Regions from separate parts of the Homo sapiens genome. Here region 2 is linked to region 1. The links come from fine-mapping of genetic effects on gene expression. A gene starts in region 1. The other region holds a variant in brackets. All regions are shown on one strand. Distances are between the middles of the regions.

Region 1 (8,135 bases):
TCATTTGCTATCCTGTGCTGGACTTTGTTACCCTCTGCCTTCATTACGGTAACTGGACTGTACTACGCTATACATTCCCATGTGGCAGCGTGGCAGCATGTACTGTTTTTTTTTTTTTCTTTTGAGACAGAGTTTCATTCTTGTTGCCCTCGGCTCACCGCAACCTCGGCCTCCTGGGTTCAAGCGATTCTCCTGCTTCAGCCTCCCGAGTAGCTGGGATTACAGGCATGTGCCACCATGCCCGGCTAATTTTGTATTTTTAGTAGAGACGGGGTTTCTCCATGTTGGTCAGGCTGGTCTCGAACTCCCGAGCTCAGGTATCTGCCCACTTCGGCCTCCCAAAATGCTGGGATTACAGGCGTGAGCCACCATACCCAGCCGTACTGTTTTCTGATACATTATTTTATTTAACATTCATAACTTATGACCAGGTGCCGTGGCTCACACCTGTAATCCCAGCACTATGGGAGGCTGAAGCGGGAGAATCGCTTGAGGACAGGAGTTCAAGACCAGCCTGGGCCACATAGTGAGACCTTATCTCTACAAACAATTTAAAAATTAGCTGGGCATAGTGGTATTTGTCTGTAGTCTTAGCTGCTCTAGAGGCTGAGGAAGGATTGCTTGAGCCTGGGAGTCTGAGGCAGCAGTGAGCTAAGATTGTGCCATTGCCCTTTAGCCTGAACAACAGAGCAAGACTCTATCTCAAAAAAAAAGAAAGACTGACTCATAACCTATGAGATCTATGAGATGGATATGGATATGATAAGCTCTACTTCTCTACTTTTCAGCTGATAAAACGGGCTGGAGAAAGAGTGACTGTTGTGTCTAAGGCACTAGTAAGTGGCCAAATATGGATCTGAACCTAGATCAGTGTGATGTCCTATGTACTCTGGTTATTACTGAAAAATGACTTTCGATTAGAATTATTTTGAGAAAGCCCCACTCTAATTTATTATACTCAAGCTAGTATACCCCTCTGAACTAGTGTAGCATCAAAACTAGTATACATTCTCTGCCGCGCGGTGGCTCACGCTGCAATCCCAGCACTTTGGGAGGCTGAGGCGGGCGGATTGACCAGCCTGGCCAGCATGGTGAGACCCTGTCTCTAACTGAAAATACAATAATTAGCTGGGCGTGGTGGCGGGCACCTATAATCCCAGCTACTCGGGAGGCGGAGGCAGGAGAATCATTTGAATCCAGAAGGCGGAGGTTGCACTGAGCCGAAATCACGCCACTGCGCTCCAGCCTGCGCAACAGAGCGAGACTTGGTCTCAAAATAAATAAATAAATAAATAAATAAAAATAAATACATAAATAAATGTAAAAAACACAAAATAAAATAAAGTAGTATACATTCTAAACTAGTAGTATACTCTCCCAATGCATGAAAACAGAAACAACACCTATAATTATCAGTAATTGTTGTTGTGGATCCAAGTATCTATGTAAGAAGCAAAAAACCCACATCAACAGTTGTTGTCATCGTTGTCACAAACTTAATTACTGGCTAGAAATGTCTAGTGCTGCAGCCAAACAGCAGTAGGAGGAGCCTTTCCCATGGCTGAGTGGAAGGAGGGAAACCTAGACTATTTCTGGGTCTGCCTTGAGCTTTCTCTGCCGCCTTGGGCAAGTGACTTTGGCCCTGGGTCAATGTCCTGGAGTAAGATGGGGCTAACACCACTGCACTGATTTGCTGGGACAGGTGGTGGAAAGTGGTGGTCCAGGGCTGGGAGAGGAGAGGAAGGGCAATGTTTCCTAGGAGAAACTGCACTATGCTGGGGCAGCTGCGGTGCTGCAAAGCGCAGGGAGTGTGGCAAGCGGACGAACCTCGTGTCTTGTTTCCTTGTTTTAAGATTGGAGGTGGAGTGGGATGGATGGTCGATCGCCAGCTCTTCCAGCTCTTAAGTGCTCAAGTTCTGCGCCAACCCAGGGGAGCTTGATTGCTTTCACGTGTCTTGGAAACAACTGGCAAAAAAGAATTTCACATAGTCTGGAAAGGGCTTGGGACAGGGACCACTCTTTGCAGACATTTGTCATTCTTTAAACATAATGACATACATTTATTAAGGACTCATAGTCCATAACTAAGACAAAATGAGCTTCAGTTACGTTCCCTAACTCGGTCCACGTTCCTTTAGAACGTCTCAAGCCCGCATGTCACTCATCGCGGAGTCGCAGCCTTCCCCTGGGTTCGGGCGTCTGCGTTAAGCGCCGGCACATCGTGGGGATCCCCGCGTGAGATTTCTCTGCGCCGTCGGAATAGACTGTTCACGGATTCGCGTTAGGATTCCTTATGCTGCAGAACTTCAAAGAAATAAATGTATCAGAATTGCGATGTTTAAGTTCTAATCTATTTAAGCGGGTGGGTCAGCAGAGGGTCAACAGGAAACTTCAAGGTAAATAGTGGCCTCTGGAAAAGGCCCGGTCGCTCACGGCTTCCCCACTGTCTCCCCAGAGCAGACTATTAATTCTTGCGTTTCAGGCAGAACTGCCGCTGCCGGCCCTGCAGCAGAGCTAGGGAGCGGGCAGGGCAGAAACCCAGCCGAGCAAGCTGCAGGCTCGAGTCCCCGCGGGCGGAGAGGCTCGGGCTGGAGCCTCCGGGGCGGTGAGGAGGGGACTCACCGCACTGAGCACAAACTGCTTTCCCCGGGAGCGCCTGCACCCAAAACCCTCCAGTTCGAGGAATGGGATTAAAAGTGACAAAGAAAGGGGAAGGGGGGCTCCGTGGAGACTTCTGGAGGCGTGGAAGGGGCGTCCCCGAGGAGGGGCGACGCAGCCCTGCAGGGTGCTGGGCGGGCGGGGTGAAGGGGGCTGGGGGGCGCCTGGGCCAGGGCTGGTGGGGGCAGACGGCCGCCTGCCCGTGCTGGCACTGGGGCGAGGGGTCCCGCGCCCCCGGAGGGAGGGAGGGAGGGAGGGAAGGAGGGAAGGAGGTCGGCCCCCGAGGGCGGTGGCGGGGGCGCGAGCTGCGGTCCTGCGCTCCGCCCCGCGCGGGTAGCCGGCCGCGCCTCCCCCTGCCGCATGTGCGCGGTGTTGTGTGCCCTGCCCTGCTCCTCCCCCTCCCCTCCCCTCCCCTCCCCTCCCCTCCCGCCGTCCCCTCCCCCAGCGGCCCCGAGCGAGCGCCAGCGCCACACAGCCCCGGGCAGCCGCCGGCGAGCGCGCCGCGACGCCGAACAGGTGGCCGGAGGCTGCGGGCGCCGCGGCGGGGAGAGGCGAGGCAAGCCCCGGGCGAAGCGAGGCGAGGCGAGGGCGGCCGGGCCGGGCATGCGAGCTGAGCGGCCCCCCGGCGTCGCCGCCGCCTGCCCGCGCCCCTAGCCGCCCGCGCGCCCGAGTCCCCAGCGGCTCCTCCGCGCCCAGCGTCCTCGGTCCCGGCCTCGGCTGCTCCGGCTGCGCTCGGCGAGGGGCGCGGGCCCGCCCGCGGCGGCGGCGGCATGAAAGTGACCGTGTGCTTCGGACGGACCCGGGTGGTCGTGCCGTGCGGGGACGGCCACATGAAAGTTTTCAGCCTCATCCAGCAGGCGGTGACCCGCTACCGGAAGGCCATCGCCAAGGTGAGGGGCCGGGGGCGCGGGCGGGGAGGGGGCGGCGGCGGGGACGGCGCCGGGATCAATATGGCGCTTCCTGGAAGGGGGAGGAGAGGCGCAGGGAGGCGGGGAAAGGGAAAGTGCGGCCGGTCGGGCCTCGCGGGCGCCCCCCGCCCCGGACTGCGGGCGCCAAAGTTCTCTGCGCGGGCCGGGGCGCAGCCTCTGGGACACCCAGCCGGGTCCCGCGGCCCCCGCCCTCACCCTCCGCCCGGGAGCTCCGGCCTCGGTAGCGCGGGGCGAGCCGGGCAGCGGCGCATAGGCCGGCCCTGGGCGCCTCCCCGGAGTCTGCAGACCCAGCCAAGCCCCGAGCCAGCGCGCGGGGGGCGCAGGCCGGGAAATCCAGCCCCAGGCCTTTCCCGGCTCCCAGGCCCCGGGGGCACAGGCCGGGGACTGGGAACTTTTGGTGTGAGGAGAGTTTCGTGACTGCCCTTCCGACAGAGGCGGGTTGCGAGCCTTCTGCCTCCTCTCCCTTACTCGGGCGGGGGCGGAACAGCGGCGGGGGGCTTTTCCTCCATGTCCCCTGCTGGTAGGGGCCGGCAGGGGCGGCCCGTCGCGTCCGGGGGCTGCAGGGTTTGGGGAGTCGCCGGCTTGGGGTCGGGGAGGCGTTCCCGGGAGGGCCACCGCTGGCACTTGGCACTCGCTTGCGAGCATTTACTGAGCTGATCCCACTTGCTGGGCTCTGGAAAGCACAACCTTGGAAGAGTCGCGGAATGAAAAGTTTTCCTGCGAGGACCTCAGCTCCTACCTATCCCGGGCTGGTTCCATGTGGCTGGGCTGCGGGGCCGGGCCTGACTTGGGAGTTGAGTGGATTTCCCTTTTTCCTGGTGGACTGATAACATTGTCTCCACTTCACAGCATTCCTCTACTGTGTGTCAGAAGTGAAAAGGCGTTTTGTTAAATTGTTTTACCGACTGTGTCTGTGTTTGACAACAGCCCACGCTGAAGTTTCTCCCAAGCACCCGGGGATATATTTCCTTTGTAGTAGAGTCCTCTTTGGTGGGGAGCGCATTCGTTTGGGTGCAGTATTTCCCATTTGTTCCCGACAGTGGCCTGGCCCCTGTGGGCTTGGGGGCTGCAAATGACGTTGGAAAGTGGCTTGGTCAGCCCTATTGAGCGTACACAGGGTACTCCGGTGGCATCTTCAGTTCTCTCAGAAATTAAGAAGTAAAAGCTTTTTAGACTTTTGTTTTGCTTTTAGTATATATTGGAAAAAATAGCATAAATTTGGCCTTTTAAAGATAATTTTGGGGGACGTTTGGAGACCCGACACAAGGATGGAAGACGTTGGCTTTAGTAGCTCTGTTATGTTCCTTACAGTTGAACTCTTTTATTGAAAATCAAATAAAATTAGTGGGAATTGGGCACCTGTTTATCTTGCAAAGCTGACAAAGGGAAAGAAAACCATCTAAATGGACATTTAGCATTTTTAAGTGTTGTTTATGTGTGACAGTTTATGCTTTAAATGTTCCAAAAGAGTACTCAAATTGTTCAGGCACTCTGGAAACCAACAAAACAAATTGTGCAAGGAAAGAGAAATAAAGTAATATGCACTCTGCAGTACGTCTAGGCTCCTGAATAGGAAGAGGGTGGTCAACATTTTCTTTCACTTTACTAATTTTATGTGATTAAAATTGTTTTACCTACTGTGTCCCATGTTTCATCCTGCACAAAATAGACATAGGCTGAACTGCCTGTTTGGCAGTAGTTCAAATGTAGTTGTTCCAGGCATTCGTTCCACAGAAATTCTGAAGCTTTGACTGTGTCCATGGCACTGTTCTGGGTGCTGGACATCTAAGGGACCCACTGGCTGTGAGAAGCTGAGCAAGAGGCTGCGGGGTCCTCCAGGTGAAGGAGCTGGTGATGACATGGGGAGAAGAGGTGGCCTCTGGGATGCTGGGTGGCTAGAGTGCAGGGCCTTGGTCACGGACCTGGTCCTTATTAACGATTAGCAGTGGTTGTTTCACAGGGCGTAGAAAAGGGAGTGCAGTTTTTTAAGGGTGTCTGGGAAGGTGTCACAAAGAGAAAAGGGGCCTATGAGCTGAAGGAAGGGAGGGTGATAGTGACATGGGAGTTGGAGATGAGAGGGAGGGTCAGAGATGGGTCAGGGGTTCCAACACTTACATGCTCTTTAAGTACAACTTAGAGTTCTGTAGGTGAATTTTAACGGGGGCTTTGCAGTATACCAAGTTCAGTCATTGGATCCCAAGATTGTTGACCCTTAAATGTTGCCAGAGCTGGAGTGTCTTCTAGGTCTCCTTTTTCTCGTTTTTCTTCTGAAATTGCTAGACAATGATTAAGATTAATTTTTAGTCTTTCTTACTACTTTTCCCATTCTATATTAAGTGATGAGGAAGTGTTAATATGTATTTAACACTGTTTTAACTTTTATTCTCTATCTGTTCCTTATCCGTATTGCCTAATAGAACAAGAGAAATTCTGTGTGAAGAATTGGGTGGCTGGATAGTTGTGGAGTGGTGTTTAGGTTGCTAGGTGACATGTGGCTTGATGAGCTCCCATCTGGTGGGGAAAAGTGTGGGCAGATCATGTTTATGGCTTTGGATAATAACCAACCAAGCCAAAAATAAAAAATAAAAAGGAAAAGAGAAAGGTCCCAACTCTCAAATCACCAAGGCTTTCTCTGCAGTAAACATTTTCTGGTGTGGTGGGGCTAATTTTCTGGCATTGCATGTGAGCTGTTTTCTCTTCAGATTACACAAATCAATTTTTCTGGATAGTGAAGTGTCATGATTTAATACTAGACATGTCCTCAGTGAGTAGATATTTGAAGGCTTATGCTTAGTCATGTGTGACATTTCTTTTTTCCTCTCCTGAAAGATGGTTTTGTGGTTGTGATCACTGATGGTTGGGAATAGCTGTTCATCCTCATCCACCCATCTGCATTAGGAGCCTCGCTGAGGACAGTGCGGTGCTAGACATTGGGAACCGCGTTACATGGACCGTTCTCATGAGGGCGCAGGATGGGAGGATGGACCGTGTCTGCATCTGTTCTTCTGCGCTTGCGACCTGACACGCGTGATTCCAGGTGGACATGGTGCTGAGCTGCAGCGCTGTGTGGGGTTGGTTGAAGGGCTGCTGTGTATAAAAAGTCATGCTCTATGAAAAAAATATAAGACTGAATTCGTGCAATTTTCAAAAAAAAGTATAATCTAGGAGACAGGAAGAATATATAACAGTATAAATAACAGGAGGTGGTAGCATTAATTGGCACCACTGTGATACAGTCAGTAATCGCTTCTGGATTTTGGAGGTGGGTGCTATCATTATGGGGTGTGTGTGGGAGTCTCATTTAGTCACTAGGATTTGAACTGGGCTTGGTTGGTGGGAAGGCTGACCTTGATATAGGGCAGTGCTTGCTAACTGGGTGAGGCACCTGCCTGCAGGGGCAGATGGGCTCTGGGTCTGAGGTCTGCAGTTGGGGTCTAGGTGTGTGAATCTGCAGAATGTCTGCTACGATTCTGATAAGTGAAAGGGAGGGCATTCCAGGAAGGCAGTATGGACAAAGGCGATTCAGGCATTCAGCCCAGGGGGTCAGGATCAAACTGAGGAGGACAGAATGCCAGGGCAAGACCCTGAGACTTCGTGCAGTAGGAAGGACTGTGGTGTTTAGCTAAGAGTCAGGGTAACAAGTAGTTCTAGGAGGATGACCTGAGCAACCTTAGATGAGGTTTGGATGGATAATTCCTTAGCATTTCATTCTAAATAAAGGTTGCTGAGTGACCAAAAGGGGAAGGAGAGAGTGAAGGGCAAAAGTGAGGGCAAGGAGGTGCTGGAGCCCCTTTGCTCACTGTTCCCACCTCCCTCATAGCTCTCCTCTCAGCCTGTAGGGGAGCTTTGGATTGGGTTTGGTGACTTAGGTTTACAAGCCATTTAACCTTGGGTATAGGGGAGCTTTGTATTGGGTTTGGTGACTTAGGTTTACAGGCCATTTAACCTTGGGTACACCAACCCTACGGAGCCCCATTATCTCAAGTGGAATATTCCCTGGCAGGGTTAATGTAAGTATTAAACAGGATGATGAGAGGGAAACTCTAAAGTCCTGGGCCCGGCCCATACTAGCTGCTCCGTAAAGATGAATGGAATCACCAATATGTTTTATCCACCAAGCAGTTTTACACCCAGGGAACTTTCCCAGGTGTCCCACTATTGCTGCTTGGATTTTTCCTGTTTACTTAAAAACGCAGCATGTAATTTCATTGAAGGATAGGTAAGAATGTGAGATTGAATGACGTGCAGCACCACAATCAGGAGAACAAAATTGTGTGTTGCATGTGTGTATGGGCTGGGGAAGTAAAAGCTGCGGGTATTGGCTTGATTACAGGTTGATTATTGGGGCCTCTGGCTTCTGTCCCCAAGCACATCACTTTAGAGTGATTTAATAGCAACCTGTTGTTATTACAGGTTGAGCATCCTTTATCCAAAATACTTGGGACCACACAAGTATTTTGGATTTTTCTGGACTTTGGGATATTTTTGTATATATAATGAGATAGGTTGAAGATGGAACCCAAGTCTAATGTATTGTTAGAATTTATG
Region 2 (8,135 bases), 58 kb after region 1:
AGAGAGCCAGTGAGTGCCTAAAACAGAAGGCACATGCTCTTTATAAACTAATTTGGAAGCAACATCCTGTCACTTCTGCTATTATATTAGAAGTAGAATGGGGCTGGGCACAGTGCACATGCCTGTAATCCCAGCGCTTTGGGAGGCTGAGGCGGGCAGATCACTTGAGGTCAGGAGTTCTAGAAAGCCTGGCCAACAAGGTGAAACGATCTTCTCTATTAAAGATACAAAAATTAGCCGGGCATGGTGGCAGGTGCCTGTAATCCCAGGTACTTGGGAAGCTGAGGCACAAGAATCACTTGAACCCAGGAGGTGGAGGTTACAGTGAGCAGAGATCCTACCACTGCACTCCAGCCTGGGTGGCACAGTGAGACCCTGTCTCAAAACAAACAAAAAAAGTAGTAGATTGGGACCAGGCATAATGGCTCATGTCTGTAATCGCAGCACTTTTGGAGGCCAAGGTGGGAGGATCACTTGAGTCCAGGAGCTGGAGACCGGCCTGGGCAACATAATAAATACTGTTTCTACACCGCTGCGCTGTCCCCCACACCCCGCCTGCCAAAAAAAGGTAGATTGGGGAGGGGTTTACACAGAGACATAAAAACCAGAAGATAGGGAGATCATTTTAGAGGCTGCCTCCCACATTGAGATTACTTACATAATATAGTTGGCTAAGATTGGAATTATACTAAACTTGTTGAAACCTATATACCTAGTGGCATTGTGAAAGATTTTGACAGGTAAAGTCATGTGCAAATACGAATAAAGGAATTCCACTCCCCAAAACGAAGTATTTTTAGATTCATAAGTGTTCTCAGCTAATAAAGTAGACAAAAATCAGAAAGCGCAGCAGTATGTGCAGAGCTTTTCACATGATATTAAAAATTAAGCCATAAGGCAGTTTGTCTCTTATTCCACATGTGGAATAAAGTGACTTGTGAAATGCCATGGTGGGTGCCTTTATTCAAGAATCCTCTTCAGTAGTATTTTTACCGCAGCACACACGTTATGCTGGCTGAAATCCTTGTGCGTAGCATGTTGCCTGCTGAAAATAATTCTGCCTTGGCCTTAGGCGATGTGCTGTTGAATTGGCTGCCTCAAATTGTCCCTCTCACTTCCTGTTTTATATGAATACTTTTTCTTTGCTCTCTTTTACTTGCTTAAAATCGGAATGTTTGATTGCTATGTGCATCATCCTTCAGTGAAATGTTTGAGGTGGAAAGTTCTAGAAGTTTCTTTTTCCCTTTTGTTGATGCGTGGAATAGATACCAGTCACTTTTAGAAATACTTGGGTGGTTCTAGCTAAAATGTGATATTCTACTTTAGCAAGGCCACTTGTGAAACAGTTCTCAAGAGCACAGTGTATCTAGTAAGTGCTTACTCATTGATTAAATATTATGTACATTGTTTTTCTTCTAATGTGATAGGACCATTTAGGACCTAAGTTTAAAGATTTACACGTGTGAATAAAATCCGTTGCATACCCTGTTCTGAGCCAGTTTTCTATGCCGTAGTATATTTCTTTGGTTCCTATTAGAAAAAAAAAAGTGCTTCATATCCAATTCTCATTGAGTTGTATCTATTCTCAGTATTGAGTTTTTTTTTCTTTTTTTCTTTTTAAAAAAGTTTCAGTATTGAATTTTGATTACTGGAAGCCATTTAATTTTGTCTTCATTTATTTTAGTTTTCATTTATCTTCAGTGCCTATGATTCTGTAGCTTTTTCCTTCCGCCTCTTTCTATTCTTTTTGTGCAGCAAAAATCATCCTCCATGTCATAGTCTTTGTTTGCATAACCTGTTCTGTCTGACACAACCATCTATCATGACCTAATTTAGCCGTTTCAGTCACACCTAGTATAATTTATACCATGGGGGAATTTCCTGTGCTGTTAAACCTTCCTTGTCATCCGTCACCAACTTAAGGAGCTTCCAGGTGTGCCCTTTCACAGGGTGGGCTTGGACTTTTCTAGTTCTTGCATTTTAGGTAGGAGCTGTTCTCAGGAATTTTTTTCTTCTGTGAATGAGTAAAGTGAAATTAATCCAAACTCAGTGCTTCCAGGATTAAAACACATTTCCATATTACACTGTCTGTAAGTTGAAGGGCCTTAGTGCTTGAGTGCCCCAACTAGAAAATGACTCATCATGAGGTGTCCTTCTGTAGACAGTGTGACGTGATAAGAGGAAGAAGGAAATTGTGGGCAACACAGTGACTTCCCAGTGACAATTCACTTGCCTCTCCTAATATCCTTCATTCCAAAGCTGCTCTTCTGCAGATGGTTATGAGGCATAGTGTGGTGGAGTGGAAAGACTTTGGAATAATGCTCTGCCACTTTCTAGCTGTGTTATTTGGAAAAATTGCTTACCTCTCCCTGAACCTGGGTTTCCTTATCTGTAAAATGGGGAGCATACTACCTTTCTTGAAGGGATTTGTTAAAAAGAATGTGTAAAATAACATATAGCAGTGGCATGTGGAAATTGTTGGATACTCCAAAAAAGTTGATGTGATTTTAAAACTTTTTCTTTACTCAGCTAATGTTTATCCTAGCTTTTCTCATGTTAGTACTAAGCCCTGATTGCATGAGGTTTTCTTAAAGTGGCCCATGTAGATAATTATAGCATTTTCTAGCATTTCATAGTTTAGGCCAATATTGGATTACAGAATGAATACTTTGAGTGCTTGCAAAGGGGTCAGGAACAGATGCATTTTTAGGAGTATCAAAGTCTGCCAATAAGGAAGCTGGTTTAGGAAATTAAATTATATGCCCAAACATTTTATGTCTACAGATGCAGGTTTATCTAGAAGAGAGGAGAATTTTCTAATAGTATACTGAAGCATCATCAGCAGAACCCTTCCAGTGCAAGGACAAAATGGGGCATCGTTTACTCTGAATTTTATGACCAGCGGCAGAAAAATGTGTCACTGATGAGGTTAACTGGGGACCAGAATCCTGGGCATGGTCCTAGTTGGCATGAGTAGAATTTGCAATGGTTTTCAGGATGTATTTTCTTCTTTTTTCTTTTCTTTTCTTTTTTTTTTTCTTGGAGACAGGTTTCGCCCAGTGGCACGATCTTGGCTCATTGCAACCTCTGCCTCCCTTGTTCAAGCGATTCTCCCACCTCAGCCTCCCGAGTAGCTGGGTTTATAGGCGTGAGCCACCGTGCCTGGCTAATTTTTTTGTATTTTTAGTAGAGATGTGGTTTTGCCATGTTGGTTGGCCAGGTTGCTCTCGAACTCCTGGCCTCAAGTGATCTGCCTGCCTTGGCCTCCCAAAATGTTGGGATTACAGGCATGAGCCACCGCACCCGGCCAGGACATGTTTTCTTAAAGACAATTTAAGAGTCAGGAAGTGGAAAAGGAAAGACAGGTAGATGAAGGACAGGCTGTAGCATGTCACACCTCACAGTTATTTGCAACTTTCTGTTAACCAGATACTGTGTTAGATGAGAATAAGAACTTAAATTTTTTATTTTTAGTGCTGACTAGTAATTAACTATAATTTTCAGTCATGATCACTGTGTTTGAACCTCCTGTGCAGATATTGTGGAAATATGTATTTTAGATGTGAGGAAGTTCTAATATAAATGAAGGCTCTAAGTAAAGAAAAAGATGCAAAATGCTGTCATAGACTTCGAAAACAGATTTGGATAAAAAACATTGCACCTACCAGAGGAATCAAGGAGAAATTTTTCCTCACAGATATTCAAGACATTATGTTATTTATCTTGTTTATGACTTTAGAACCTTTTTTTAGGGGGATGACAGTACCTTTTGGTGATTTGAGTCTAAAATTTGAAACTAAGATTCATGCAGAAAAGTAAAAGAAGAAAATTTTCGGAGAAGAAAGCAGTGGTTGAAAAATCTGTTAGCAGTGTTCCCTTTTGTCTTTTCAGCCTGTTCACCAGGAACTCGGAGCTTTGCACTGTGATTATTTTATTGGTTCAAAGGACAGAGATTGTCTTTAAAATGATGAATGGCTTTGATTATGTGTAGTGGCTCACACCTGTAATCCCAGACTTAAGGAGGCTGAGGCGGGAGGATTGCTTGATGCTAGCAGTTTGAGGCCAGTTTGGGCAATGTAGTGAGACCCCATCTCTATAAAAAGTAAAAAAACTAGTCAAGTGTGGTGGTGCATGCCTGTAGTCCCAGCTACTTGAGGCTGAGGCAGGAAGATCACTTGAGCTCAGGCGTTCAGGACTACCACTACGCCACAGCCTAGGCAACAGAGCTGACTCTTTTTTTTTTTTTTTTTTTTTATAAGAAAAAAAAAAAA[G/AG]GTGCATTGGCTGGGCGCGGTGGCTCAAGCCTGTAATCCCAGCACTTTGGGAGGCCGAGGCGGGCAGATCATGAGGTCAGGAGATCAAGACCATCCTGGCTAACACGCTGAAACCCCGTCTCTACTAAAAACACAAAAAATTAGCCAGGTGTGGTGGCGGGTGCCTGTAGTCCCAGCTACTCAGGAGGCTGAGGCAGGAGAATGGCGTGAACCCAGGAGGTGGAGCTTGCAGTGAGCTGAGATCGTGCCACTGCACTCCAGTCTGGGCAGCAGAGTAAGACTCCGTCTCAAAAAAAAAAAAAAAAAAAAAGGTGCATTTTTTTGCCATGGGGAGATTGGAGGAGGGAGGGTGAGGGGTACTGCCAACCTGTACAGTGATTTCAACCCAGATTAGCATCCTAGCCCCTCTCTCTGCTGGTTTGGTTTAACAACTTATTGTAAGTTTGGTGCTCCTGTGTGAGACTAGAGTAAAGGACCATGGGCATCTTCATGGTTGTTGGGAAGCTGTTAGTCCCCAGAACTAGAGCAAGTGGGGCCAGTAGGTACAATTCTCAGATATGGTGGCCTTTGAAGCAGGTAAGCACAGCCTGTCTTGGGCCTTAACATTAATGCCTGTCTTGTTGATTTGTCATTATCATTTTAGTTTTGTAATTGGTTGATTGAGACAGAAGGGGAAAAATGGCAAAAAAAAGCATGTTATATATGCTTAGGATGGAATGTTTTCTTTTTCCCATTCCTCATCTCAATTCCCAGTTTAATGCCAAATCTTTGAGTATCCATATTCTTGAGGAGAGACTGTTCTTGGAAATCATTTGATGAGAAAACTGCTGAGAAGCTGATCAGATGCCAACATCAGAGGGCAGTTTAGGTTATCTGCTAACTACAAGCAGATCCAGATCCTAGTAGCACTGAGCATAGACAGACACCAAGTTATGACCTCTCAAGTTGCTAGTTGAGCCTCATGAAAGGAAGATTTGCTGTGGGAGGGCATACCCTTGCACTGGGCTCTTGTGATCGGCCCAGCAATTCTTTTTCTGTTATTTTTTTTGAGACAGAGTTTCTCTCCTGTCACCCAGGCTGGAGTGTAGCAGTGCAATCTCAGCTCACTGCAACCTCTGCTTCCCTGGCTCAAGCGATTTTCCTGCCTCAGCCTCCTCAGTAGCTGGGATTACGGGTGCATGCCACCACGCCCGGCTAATTTTTTTTTTTTTTTTAATTTTTAGTAGAGACGGGGTTTCACCATGTTGGCCAGACTGGTCTCGAGCTCCTGACCTCAAGTGATCTGCCCGCCTCAGCCTCCCAAAATGCTGGGATCACAGGCATGAGCCACCGCGCCCAGCCTCGGCCCAGCAATTCTTCTTGAAGCTGTCAGTCATCCTTTGCCTCATTGAAAATGTCGATTTTTGGCTCACTCTGCCTGTTTTAAGGACCTTGGAAAAGTGACAATCTCACATTGACCAAAACTTTCCATTTGCTCATAAGCTTTAAGGACTTCTTACACGTAGTCTTGTGTCCTTGTGGTCAAGGATGTAGGTCCCTGCTTATAAGCCCCACCTCATGTTCTCATCACTGTTGACATCATGGCTTTAGCTGAAGTGTCTCTTTCTGTTATTAGTTACTCATAAATGTCGTTTATTAACAGGAGGAAGGTTATTCTTAGAATTATTTCTGATGAGGTATTTGTATGTGTATAGTTTAAGTCAGGGGATTGTCTGTAATCCAACGCAGTCTGAAATAGTTTTTGGAGGTTGGCATAGTTTCATTTCACCCTGTCCAATTTGTTCAGAGAAGCCTGGAATTTTTACATGTTAGTAAAAGAAAGAAAATCTGCCTGATTTAAAAATTAGTGGCTTTTAACAATTGTATCTATGATATGAAAAGGAGAGATTTGTTGCAACAAAAGACTTTCTATTAATAAAGTATTTGAGTATTTTCTGTGTAGCCATGTGGGTGTGTACACGATAGGTAAATGTAAAATATGATCCTTGCTTTTAAAGAACTTGCTTATTTGGGAAAGTACAGGACAAAGCACGTGATGTTTCATAAGACGGGTTGTAGAAAGAGCTACTTATGACTTGAAAGTGTTTTTATTGGTAAGGTAAATAGATGCTTGTATGTTTCTCAATAAATTAATCTAGCAGTATAAAAAATTCCAGGCCAGGCATGGTGGTTCATGCCTGTAATCCCAGCACTTTGGGAGGCTGAGGCAAGAGGATTGCTTGAGGCCAGGAGTTCAAATCCAGCCTGGATAACATAGCAAGATCCCATCTCTACGAAAAGTAAAATTAGCCACATATGGTGGCATGTGTTTATAGTCCCAGCTATTCAGGAGGCTGAGATGAGAGGATCACCTGACCCAGGAGGCTGCAGTGAGCTATGACTGCATCAGTGCACCTCCAGCCTGGGCAACAAGGAGACGATGTCTCTAAAAAAAAAAAAATAAATAAAACCAGAATTCCATATGTTGTCTGATCTACGATGACTATTTTTGTTTTTTCTACGTTATCATAAAAAACACTTATTCAGGGGAAGCCACTTTAAAAGTATCCTAGATGAGAACTGTGTGCTCCTTTTTGTTTTAAGGTTGTGTGTTCTCCCTTGTCCTTTCCCTGACTCCCTGCATACTTTGAGATGGCTTGTGCAGCCCCGGCTTTTGCTTGGCATACTCTTCCTGTCTGTGATTCTCTGCTTCTCTCCATGGCTGGATTTGCTGGTCTAGAGATACAAGAAGATTTGAAACCTATGTCCTCTTGGATTTTATTAATCAAACATATGCATGTCCAGAATTCACACAACCCTCTGCCATGCCCTCCAGGGATGGGCTACTGGGAGGATATTTTTATCAATAAGTAGGCTAAATATTTATTTTTATCCCACTGGGTGGTTTCACAGGCATCAGCAAAATACAAAATTGCGTTATTCACCAGAACATGAGCTACTTTCTGTGTTGTCCATGTGGCAAGGTCTTTAGAAATATTTGTGTGGGCCTTTGCCATGTTAAATGGCTGTATTCCAAGGCTTCATTTGTGGTGGTCTAGTCTTTTGTAGGAGGATAGTAAGGACGAAATGAATTGGTGTCTTCCAGCAGTCAGATGTGGCACACAGGGCTCAGGGCTTGCACCAGTCGTCTGCCTGTTCTTCAAGGTTTGCCTGGAGCTTATTTGCCAGCTTCTCCAAGGGTGTCCCCAGCTCTTAGTTTGCTTTTCCATTTGTCAGTCCAAGTGCCCTTGGGGATAGAGTGTCATCCCCTTTGGCTCCTCATGTGGGCATGTATGAAGAAGAGAGACTTCGTTTGTACACACAGCAATCAGGACCCCTGCTGGAGCTGGAGAATCGAGGTGCTTTTCAGACCAATCCTGAGGCCCTGTCCTTGGAACTGAAACAACAGGCTGAGATGACTGAAGTGCATTAAGGAGGAGGCTTTAGCCTGCTGCCTTGGCTGTTTTCTTCCATTAGAAAACATCTCATGAATGGAGCATTTGGAAAAACAGGTAGTTTTAGAAAAAGAGAATTTCCACTCAGACTTTGAGACCAATCTCTGTAATTGTTTTGGTAGGGTAAGGATAGGCTTTCTTGAAACACTAGCCTTTAGCTGAGGTATTCGCACACAGCCCCTGTCTCTGCATAAGGAGATAATAACCCCAAATCAAAGGACTGTCTTCTGTTAATTACTAAATTCCCATTTTTCCACTTTAAGTTGTGTGGCTGGTAATAGCGTCCGCCTTCTGATATAAGTCATAGCATGCAACATGCACTTTGCAAGTGCATTTTGCTTGAATATTTTGCAAAGATATTCTATTGAATTGAGAGGCAGCAAGTATTTGATGTAATGATTACACTTGATCACACAAAAACACTTCACAG

What was found. PIP is the estimated chance that this variant, and not a neighbour inherited with it, causes the effect. A credible set is the group of variants that fine-mapping cannot tell apart.
Region 2: its variant is the best candidate, but not a certain one, in a credible set for the expression of PARD3 in whole blood (INTERVAL, PIP 0.58).

Annotation. Positions count from the first base shown.
Region 1 is chr10:34,810,289-34,818,423 of GRCh38, reverse strand. It overlaps PARD3 (par-3 family cell polarity regulator), which reads left to right and starts at 3,128. Exons shown (of 25, transcript NM_001184785.2): 1 at 3,128-3,548. The coding sequence starts at 3,429. PARD3-DT (PARD3 divergent transcript) reads right to left here and starts at 2,656. Exons shown (of 2, transcript NR_108043.1): 1 at 2,623-2,656; 2 at 2,002-2,304. RefSeq lists silencers at 2,780-2,829, 2,920-3,089, 3,610-3,889.
Region 2 is chr10:34,752,597-34,760,731 of GRCh38, reverse strand. The region is part of intron 1 of PARD3 (par-3 family cell polarity regulator); the gene reads left to right. Among named protein-coding and RNA genes, the nearest start is that of PARD3, 59 kb to the left of the region's middle. The variant G/AG (reference allele first, on the strand shown) is at 4,272.